Regions from separate parts of the Homo sapiens genome. Here region 1 is linked to region 2. Evidence: fine-mapped expression QTL. A gene starts in region 2. The other region holds a variant in brackets. All regions are shown on one strand. Distances are between the middles of the regions.

Region 1 (5,364 bases), 23 kb before region 2:
AGCCCCTGGGCCAGTCCAGACCCCTCCCACCTGCGGAAGCATGGAGCCCAGGAGGCCATGTTGGGCAAACAGGCTGTGCCCAGACAGTGCCCCAAGACCAACTCATCACACCCAGTGAGTCCTGGCAGAGAAGGAGCCAGAAGCCGGGGACAGAGCTTTCTCTGGGTTGGGCAAACGACGTGGTGTGAGGTCTGAGCAGCGTCTGGCTTCAACCTGCTGCTGCCACAGGCTGTGTGCCAAGAGAGGTCAGGGGACTGGCAAGAAACGAACTGTCCTCGGGCTGGCCCTCTGCCTACTTCCTGGTATAGAACACCCCGCCCCGGGGGTTCCCACGCGGCCCTGAGGGCTGGGCCCCAACAGCACAAAGCTCAAAAACCCAGCCTCCCAAGGCGGGCGGATCACCTGAGGTCAGGAGTTCAAGACCAGCCTGCCCAACATGGCAAAACCCCGTCTCTACTAAAAATACAAAAAATTTGCTGAGTGTGGTGGTGGGCACCTGTAATCCCAGCTACTTGGGAGGCTGAGGCAGGAGAATCACTTGAACCCAGGAGGCGGAGGTTGCAGTGAGCCAAGATCGCGCCATTGCACTCCAGCCTGGGTGACAGAGTGAGACTTCGTCTCAAAAAAAAACACAAAATACCAGCCTCATCCAGCTTAAAGGGCCAGCCTCCCCCGACTGCCTTTGCACAGCCAAGAAATACAGAGAGGGAAACTGAGGCTCAGTGACGGGCCAAGCGTGTGTGTCAGGCAGGGGCAGAGCTGGCACGAGGCCCCATCTCTCCTCCAGACGAGAAGGGAAAGTGTGCTTTGGTCGGGGAGTAGTGCTGCAGGCTCAAAAGAAGGAATGAGAGAGAGAGGCTCAGGGTGCCCACTGACGGGCCTGGTAGGGAGATGGGGCCTGATGCGGCCCCATCCTGAAGCTGCCCCTCCCACCCCCAGTGGGGCAGCCAGGTTAGCACGTGACCCCTTGGCTGGCAGACACGCAGAACAGGGCTGTCCTGGAGATGAGCCAGGTGTGACCCATACCCCCATACCAGACAGCATTCTGGGCATTGAGTCACAGACCTGAGGTTCCCAGTCATTAGGTCAGGTGAACAGACTGCAGTAAGGGTGACAGCGTGTTACTGACCACATGGCTTCCAAAGGCCGTGGTGTCAGCCGGGTTCAGAGGGGTCCTGTTGAGAGAAGCTGACCTTGGACTCTGGCCTCCAGAAGCTGCAAAGGACTGGCCTCTTTCCCTCCTCCAGCTTCAGCCACCCCCAGACCAAGGCACTAGACGGTCCAGCTCCTACAGCCACAGCACCCTGGGGCTGTCTTCAGGGAAACTCACCCCAAGATTCCATGCATTCATTCACTCACTCATTCATTTATGCTCTGTTTGCTGAGCCTCCACTCTGTACCATGATCTACACGGGGCACACCTTGGGCATCAGGGAATTCCCTCTCCTTGCCCTCAGGTTGTCCCAGTCTGACCGAGGAGACAGACAGACAGACACACACACACACACACACACACACACACACACCATACACACCATACACACCATACACACCACACACACACACTATGGTTGGGGCTTTGATGAGTACAACGTAGGGGATGGAGTACACAGAGAAGTTGTGTGTGTGTGTGTGTGTGTGTGTGTGTCTTCCTGGGGTCAGGGGAGGGTTATAGGCACAGCAGAGAAGACTTCTGGGAGGAAGTGTCCTTCGAGCTGGGTTTTGAGGGAGAAAGAAGAGTTGGGCCACAGTGGTGAGGAAGTGTCCTGCGGCCTTCAACACTGCCTCAGCAACTTTGGAAGTAGAGCCCCCCTCCCACATCCTTCACCCCCACCTTACTCACTCACAACAGCCTTATTTCCTGGGCTGAGAGCTGAGGCCTCAGACATGGCCCACAACCTCACACTAACTCGTTTACAACTAGAACAGCACTACTTTAACAAGACACTGATGATGTTTTATGTGTTTTTATTTTATTTTATTTTATTTTATTTTTTTTTTTTTTGAGACGGAGTCTTTCTCTGTCGCCCAGGCTGGAGTGCAGTGGTACAATCTTGGCTCACTGCAAGCTCTGCCTCCCGGGTTCACGCCATTCTCCTGCCTCAGCCTCCCAAATGGCTGGGACTACAGGCGCCCGTCACCACGCCTGGCTAATTTTTTTGTATTTTTAGTAGAGACGGGGTTTCACCGTGTTAGCCAGGGTGGTCTCGATCTCCTGACCTCGTGATCTGCCTGCCTCGGCCTCCCAGAGTGCTGGGATTACAGGCATGAGCCACCGCGCCCAGCCCGCCTGGCTATTTTTAGTTATTTATGTATCGTGAGTCAGGGTCTCATTCTGTTGCCTAGGCTGGGGTGCAGTGGCATGACCATGGCTCATTGGAGCCTCAACCTCCAGGGCTCAGGTGATCGTCCCACCTCAGCTTCCCAAGAAGCTGGGACCACAGGCATGTGCCACCATGCCTGGGTAATTTTTGTATTTTCTGTAGAGATGGGATTTTGCCATATTACCCAGGGTGGACTGATGATGTTTTTAAAAGAAGATAGGCTGGTGCGGTGGCTCACGCCTGTATTCCCAACACTTTGAGAGGCCGAGGTGGGTGGATCACGAGGTCAGGAGAGTGAGACCTCCTGGCCAACATGGTGAAACCCCGTCTCTACTAAAAATACAAAAATTAGCGGGGTGTGGTGGCGTGCGTCTTTAGTCCCAGCTACTAGGGAGGCTGAGGCAAGAGAATCACTTGAACCCATGGGGCGGAGAGGAGCCGAGATCGCGCCACTGCACTCCAGCCTGAGCGACAGAGTGAGACTCTGTCTAAAAATAAATAAATACATAAAAAATAAAAGAAGATAAAGAGGAGTTTTTGGTGGACTTGTAGAATTCAGGGTCTGGGATCACACAGACCTAGGTTTGAGCATAGATTCAGCCACTTATTGGCTGAAACGTTTGTCTTTCTGAGCCTCCGTTTCTTCATCTGTGAAATGGGTGCTCATGAAGCTTTGGCAAGGCTGAAGTGAAGTGACTCATCAGATGTGTCCAACATAGTGCCTGGCCTTGGGTCAGCTCTCCATAAGGCCCTGATCTTGGCTGTTAGAGAGTTTCCTGAGACAGAGGCTGGGCCGGGCACTTGCTGTTTGGAGAAGGGGAGGAGACATTATTCTCGCTTCTCCAAGAGAACATTCCATCCTCAACTGTCTCTCACACTCTGAGCTCCAGC[C/A]TGTACCTGCCACCTCCCCAGACTCCATCCAGCTCCTGCTGCCAAGGTGAGGAAGAAAGGATGGCCACCATCAGCAGGGCTGGCGACAGTGGGGCCTGCGTTTCCCCGTCCGGGTCATTCACTACTTCTGACTCCTAGAGTCCATTACCCCCTCTTTGGAAAGGTCACCTCCCCATTCTCAGTTCATGTGGCTCAGGGAGGAGAGGCCTTTTCTGACCCCAGCCTACTCCATGGCTGGCCTATGAGAGGGCGCACCCCCCGGGCACTGCGACTGGTCAGGGATGAACATATCACCAAGCCTGGCCAATGAGATGCAGCCTGGGGACTTCAGCTGGGACCCTGAGGCAAGGTGACCTCTCTCCACTGGGGTAGCCTCATGGGCAGCAATGGAGCTGGCCTGAAGCTGCAGACCACCATATTGCTGTCGCAGGAGAGAGGCTGCCAGGGAGGAAGCTGGACCGCCAGACGTGCGTCTGCAAGCCCAGGTGCCTCAACCTGCAGCCCAGAGAAAACCTCCAGGCCTCTGCCAACCTGCCCCGGTGCAGCAAGAGTCCAGCCTGGGCAAGGGGATTCGGAGGCTTGAGCTCGGGCCCCAGGCCAGCCCCAGCACTGATCTGCGCAGGACCCAGGGCCAAGCACTGCCTTGTTCTGAACTTCTGTCAACAGCAGGCCCTGTCCCTGCCCTGTGGAGTGCACAGGGCTGACAAGGCCCAGGCAAGGAGACAAGGTGGACAGGTGAGGGCCATGGCAGTCCCCTACTCCACAGGGCAGCAGCCCCAGGAGAGGGAGGGGAGGCAGGCTGGCCCACCCTGCTCCCCTCACCCTGCCATGCCAGTCCCTGACCGGCATCCTGGCCTCCCACAGGGCACTGACCCACAGCCAGGGAGAAACAGACGAGCTGGAAGCTTCACACTCCTGGGTTTGAATTCGCACCCCACCACCTCCCAACTGTGTGATTTGGGGCAAATGACATCACCTCTTTGAGCCTCACTTTCCTCATCTGCTACCAGGAAATGGAAAGAGCGCCTCATCGGCCATCGCCGCAGGCACTGGGCTTGTGTGTCCCCGATGTCGCCCTGGTTTATCTCCACGTCCCCATGAGAGACGCCACCACTGCCTGTTCCAAATGAGGAAACAGGAAAATGAGACTCAGGCACATGAAGCGACCAAAAAACCACAAACCCACAGAACTGGCAGAGCCGGGCTCGCACCCCCAGCTTTCCTGTTCTAAAGCCAGTCCTGCCTCAGCCTCCTGGGGCCTGGCACCCGGTGAGTGCTTGGCACAGGGGCTTGGCACCGGTGAGTGCTTGGCAAATGCTGGCTATTATCCTAGAAGGACATTTCTTGGGGTAGGAGGCCCTGGCTGCTTGTTGAGCTGCCCCACACCTGGTGTCCCTTCTGCAATGTGGAATTCCCCATTGAGGGGGTCTTGTTGAGCGCGGGGACCAGAGCCTTGTTCCTCCATTCCCCAGCCTCTAGAGCTCAGGCCTATAGGCCCAGCTGCTTTGCCTTAACACCTCTGCCTCATCAAGGTTCAGTTGGGAAAATGGCATTTCAAGCAGGAAAGGACTGAACACGGGGAATTTGAGGCTTGCAAAACCTTCCAAAGAGCTGAGGGGCAGCCACACCTGGTCCAGAAGTTAGGATTTGTAGCCTGGCATGGTGGTGCACGCCTGTGGTCCCAGCTACTCAAGAGGCTGGGGCAGGAGGACTGCTTGAGCCTGGGAGGTCAAGGCTGCAATGAGCCATGATTGCACCACTGCACTCCAGCCTGGGTGACAGAAAGAGACCCTGTCTTAAGAAAAAGAAAGAAAAGAAACTAGGACTGGAGGAATTGCAGGAGCATGCACCACTCGGAGGGGGGCTGGTCAGCCCCAGGAGACCCCCAGAAGTCACTGGCAAAGTGTCACATCTGGCAAAGCCCACCCCTGCCTGCCACTGCACCTCCCCACAGCCTTCCAGGTGTCAGGCAAATGCCCGTGACTGACAGGCTGTAACCCAGAACCCTGCTGCAGGGGCTTCAAGGAAACGTGGCTGTCAGGCTTCCAGCCCCTGCAGCCCCCTGCAGCCACAGAGCAGGGAAAATGGTGCTGAGTGTCCAAGGCCCTCAGCCCTAAGAGGACTGCAAAGTGCCCTGCACTGACCTGGC
Region 2 (5,334 bases):
CTCAAGTGATGCTCCTGGCTGAGCCTCCCAAGTAGTCGGACAAGTGTAAGACACAATGCTCTGTTAATTTTTTTTTTCATTTTTAATTTTTGAGACAGTCTTTTTTTTTTTTTGAGACGGAGTCTCGCTCTGTCTCCCAGTCTGTAGTGCAGTGGCGCGATCTCGGCTCACTGCAACCTCCGCTTCCTGGGTTTTATGCCATTCTCCTGCCTCAGCCTCCCGAGTAGCTGGGACTACAGGCATGCACCACCTACGCCCGGCTAATTTTTTTTGTATTTTTAGTAGAGATGGGGTTTCACCGTGTTAGCCGGAATGGTCTCGAACTCCTGACCTTGTGATCCGCCCACCTCGGCCTCCCAAAGTGCTGGGGTTACAGGCATGAGCCACCTCGCCCGGCGAGACAGAGTCTTGTTATGTTGGCCAGGCTGGTCTCAAACTCCTGGCTCAAGTGATCCTCCTGCCTTGGCCTCCCAAAGTGCTGGGATTACAGCCATAAGCCACCATGCCTGGCCTTGAGGCAACCTCTTCCTCCCACAGGGAACTGTGATCCCATAAAAATGTCTGAGGCTTTTCCTAACAAAAGCCAGCAGATGCCAGAAAGAGTTATTTCAAATTATAGAGGGCCACTCCTTACTTTAGTGTCCCTTCCTCCTGGCCAGATTTCTGGCATTCCTTTGAGATTACCAGACTGGTGCCAGGGGACAGTGGGACAAAGGGCTTGTCACCTGGGCAGGCCATTGGCATGGCCCCACCTCCCTGTGAGCCGGTATTTTTAGAGAAAGTCCTTGGCTCCTTTATCCAAACGGCCTCCCCAGATTGAAGCCCTTGGCTTCTCAGCCTTTCAAACATCCAGTGGCCGGCCTCCGTCCCAGGGGCCTTGGTCTCTCCTACCTCCCTGCAGGTCAACTTCCAGGCCTGTCGCCACAGCAGCCTTACAAAAGTCCCCTTTCATTTTTATCCTTAAATAAGACCATTTTGCGTGGAGCAAGTTCAGCCAAGTACACACTCTAAAAGATTTTTGCGGCCGGGCGCGGTGGCTCACTCCTGTAATCCCAGCACTTTGGGAGGCCGAGGCGGGCGGATCACGAGGTCAGGAGATCGAGACCATCCTGGCTAACACGATGAAACCCCGTCTCTACTAAAAATACAAAAAAAAAAAAAAAAAAAAAAAAAAAATTAGCCAGGCGTCGTGGCGGGCGTCTGTAGTCCTAGCTACTCGGGAGGCTGAGGCAGCAGAATGGCGTGAACCCGGGAGGCGGAGGTTGCAGTGAGCCGAGATCGTGCCACTGCACTCCAGCCTGGGCGACTGAGCAAGACTCCGTCTCAAAAAAAAAACCAAAAAACATTTTTGCTTCTGGAAGACTGTGAACTCCCCACATAGAAGCATTTCCTGTGTATCAGGCACTGGATTTCCTAAGCCCCTGGCAGCCCAGGAAACCTCCTGTTTCAGCTCATGTCCCATAAAATGGGATCCATAATTTTTATATGTATCAGCACCTCACTTCTAGGAAGGACGGGAGCAGTGAGGGACATGGGGCAGTGTGTGGCAAACGGTAGCAGGGGCCCTTGCCCCTCTACCCCGGCAAAGGTGCGTTAGTCACGGTCACAAGGCTGTTTCCTGCGGGGGATGGGGAGGCAGGGGCAGCGTCCACAACGCCAGTAGCCCCGTGGCACGCACCTTTGGCCTGTGCTCTGGGCAGTTGCGGCGGCCCCATGGCGGGGATGATGCCCCTCCCTCGACGGTCCCTGGGCCTCCAGCCCTGAACTTCTAGGCCCGAGCATCCTCAGTACCACGGACAGGGAAACTGAGGCTGCGGGAGGCGTGCAGAGGGCTGGGCCCCGGTAGCCGGCGTGCAGCCGGGCCCAGCCTGGCCCACCGTGTGGCCTCGAGCCCGTCACCTCTTCCCTCCTTCAGACCTCGGTTTCTTAGTAATTCTTCGGGCTCCGCGTTGGACAGGGCGAGACGCGCCTGTGGCAGCGCTGGGAAATGTTACAAAATCACACCCACTGAGCCCCAGGAGGAGGCTGCTCGCCCAAGGTCACGCGGAGAGGGCAGTAGCCTCCAGACACGTTTCCTGCCTGCCCCTGCCAGGCCCGGCCTCTGATGTCACGGGGCTTCCGAGGGGTCCAAGGAAACTTTCAGCTCCCAAAGCCAACCCCGGGGTCCTCCGAGGCTCAGGAGCCTCCCTCGCTCGGCCCAGTCCGGCTCCGTCCCACCGCGGAGGCGCTCTCCCGGCGCCCCCCGCGCCTCGCTCCCCTCTCCCCCTTCCCTGCGACCGCCGGGGCGCCCCCTCGACGCCCCGCCCCCTTCGCCCAGGCCCCGCTCACGGAGGCCGCAGCGCTCTGGGTTGGGGGCGGCGCCGCAGCCAATGGGGAGGCGGTGTGGCGAGGGCGGCGGCGGTTATGATGCGCCGGGCCGGCGGACGGCGGCCAATCAGTGGCGAGCGCGAGGGCGGGCTGTGACGCGGCCGGCGCTCCTCGTGCGGCGGCGGCAGAGGAGCGAGTGCAGCGGCCAGCAGCACATCCCCGCTCCACAGTCGCCGCAGTCGCCGCAGCCGCCGCCGCCGCCCCGCGCGCCCAACCGCCGCGGCCCCCTGCCCCGCCGGCCTGCCAGTGAGAGAGCGGCGAGGGGGCGCCCGGCCGGACTCTGAGCCTAGTCCTCTCGCGCTGCGGCCGCCCGCGCCTCCTCGGCCGCCTGTCGGGCATGAAAACCAAATTCTGCACCGGGGGCGAGGCGGAGCCCTCGCCGCTCGGGCTGCTGCTGAGCTGCGGTAGCGGCAGCGCGGCCCCGGCGCCCGGCGTGGGGCAGCAGCGCGACGCCGCCAGCGACCTCGAGTCCAAGCAGCTGGGCGGCCAACAGCCGCCGCTCGCGCTGCCCCCTCCGCCGCCGCTGCCGCTGCCGCTGCCGCTGCCCCAGCCCCCGCCGCCGCAGCCGCCCGCAGACGAGCAGCCGGAGCCCCGGACGCGGCGCAGGGCCTATCTGTGGTGCAAGGAGTTCCTGCCCGGCGCCTGGCGGGGCCTCCGCGAGGACGAGTTCCACATCAGTGTCATCAGGTCGGTGGCGCCGGGTCTGGGGGCCGCGGGACAGTCAGGTGACGCGGGGCGGGGCCGGGGCGGGGTCCGGGCAGGGGGCGTGGGCCGGGGGGGTCGGGGGCCGGGGGAGCCGGGGCCGGGGCGGAGGCCGGGGACCGGGGACCGCAGCCGGCGAAAGCCCTCCTTCTCCCAGCCCTGGGTAATCCAAGGGAAGCGGGTTCGCGGCCGCCGCAGGCCGTCCACAAACAGGCTTTTGTAAAAACGTCGGTTTCATGAGAAAACGGGTCTGTTCTAGGAGAACAATACCGTTCCATCACGAAGTGCGTGTGGTACTGACGCTTAAGATAGGTCTAGAAAGTCTCTGCGGTTTAGGGCCTTGAATGAAGGTGTTGTGGCTGGCTTTAAAAACACAAACCACTTTTTAACTTTTTTCTGTTAGTTTTTCGAGTTCGCGATTTGATGTCTTGTTCCCTCTCCAAGAGTCATTGTTAGTGGAGGAGTAGCATTTTCTCATCCCCTAAGAGACATCACTATAGCTGTGTTACTAGACAAAGGTGGGAGGCGTGGCTCCTAAAATAAGAGTAAGGTAGAAATGTTTTTTCCTTTTTTTTTTTTTTTTGAGACGGAGTTTCGCTCTTGGTCCCCAGGCTGGAGTGCAGTGGCGCGACCTCGGCTCACTGCAACCACGGCCTCCCGTGTTCAAGCGATTCTCCTTGCCTCAGCCTCCCGAGTAGCTGGGATTACAGACACACGCCACCACGCCCGGCTAATTTTGTATTTTTAGTAGAGACAAGGTTTCTCCATGTTCGTTAGGCTGATCTTGAACTCCCGACCTCAGGTGATCCACCCGCTTCGACCTCCCAAAATGTTGGGATTACAGGCATGAGCCACCGCGCTCGGCCATTTTTTCCTTTTTTTAAACTTGAAAATATTTAATCTTAAATTTGAATTACAGAAGTACGCGTGTAGGTATTCAGACTTAACAGAAGTCTGACCTTCTTTCACCACTCTGCTCCGAAGACATAACCATTCAACGTAGTGTGTGCATCCTTCTATTGAGACCTTTAAAGATGTGTTCCCGGGCCGGGCGCAGTGGCTCACGCCTGTAATCCCAGCACTTTGGGAGGCCAAGGTGGGCGGGTCACGAGGTCGGGAGATCGAGACCAGCCTGGCCAACATGGTGAAACCCCATATCTACTAAAAATACAAAAATTAGCTGGGCATGGTGGCGCACACCTGTAGTCCCAGCTACTTGGGAGGCTGAGGCAGGAGAATCGCTTGAACCTGGGAGGCGGCGGTTGCAGTGAGCCGAGATCACGCCACTGCACTCCAGCCTTTGACAGAGAGAGACTGTCTCAAAAAAACAAAAACAAAGAACGTGTTCCGTCATTTTCTGCCAATTTTCTTTTAATTGGCTGACAGGTTGTGTGCAGTATCTAGAAATTTGCTGGCTGGCTGCCACCAGTAATCCCCAAGTCCAGTTTTGGTCATTTGATTCCTTTTCTGTGCCCACTGTCTTTCACCAGAGCCGCTAATGCAGCAAAATTAACTCTTTGAGCTTCACTTCCTCTTTGTGCTTCAGCCCCTCTGACTGCTTATGAGCTAAGAGTGAGAGTTAATAGGCAGTTGGTAAGGAAGCAGAGAAAAGAAAACCGAGGCTGTTTAGATAATCCCTGAATTGCTTAATGGCACTTAAAAAAAATTCAGCTCTCTCCAAGGTTTACTTTAATCTACTTTTAGTTAGGCCTGAAAATTCTCAACTAGAAGGGCGATCATTTTAGGCCATGTACTCATCAGTCTGTGAAATGGAAAACCTAAAGGAGAAGTGACTTGCCTGAGGTCAGTGGCTGTTTACTGCCTTCAAAGCCTGAACTGCCAGGTCTCTGGTGTCCCCTTCTCCTGCACCAGTGCTCTAGCCTGCGGCCTGTGAAAATGTTTGGACACCCTAGATCCAGCCTTAAGATATTTTCATGGCTTTCTCCAGGGAGAGTCACTCAGCAGTTAAACTTTTGCATTTTGCTCAAACCAGTTATTAGGAAAGCATTGAGGATGTCTTGTTTCTTTTCTCCAGGAGTTAGCAGTCTTGGAAAACACAGCTTTCCTTTTGGATTGGATGACCTTTTTACATAATGTTGCAAGAGTACACTCTCTCAGTCCTGTGTTCTGAAAGAGAACGTAGTTATGGAATAAGTTTAATAAGGAGAAAAAAAGGTGATTTAGGACATGGGAAAGTGGGTGATGTCTAGCTTTTAAAAAAGACACAAGGGCATTTGGAGGTGCGGAGAAGGAGAGGAATTCGTC

The links. PIP is the estimated chance that this variant, and not a neighbour inherited with it, causes the effect. A credible set is the group of variants that fine-mapping cannot tell apart.
Region 1: its variant is the best candidate, but not a certain one, in a credible set for the expression of CHKA in whole blood (INTERVAL, PIP 0.65).

What each region holds. Positions count from the first base shown.
Region 1 is chr11:68,141,168-68,146,531 of GRCh38, reverse strand. No RefSeq gene overlaps it. Among named protein-coding and RNA genes, the nearest start is that of CHKA-DT, 22 kb to the right of the region's middle. The variant C/A (reference allele first, on the strand shown) is at 3,216.
Region 2 is chr11:68,118,548-68,123,881 of GRCh38, reverse strand. CHKA (choline kinase alpha) reads left to right here and starts at 2,494. Exons shown (of 12, transcript NM_001277.3): 1 at 2,494-3,054. The coding sequence starts at 2,705. It overlaps CHKA-DT (CHKA divergent transcript), which reads right to left and starts at 1,994. Exons shown (of 4, transcript NR_183630.1): 1 at 1,679-1,994. RefSeq lists silencers at 1,640-1,739, 2,090-2,519, 3,090-3,219 and enhancers at 989-1,755, 1,756-2,521, 3,370-3,499, 3,640-3,769, 4,195-4,711 and 1 more.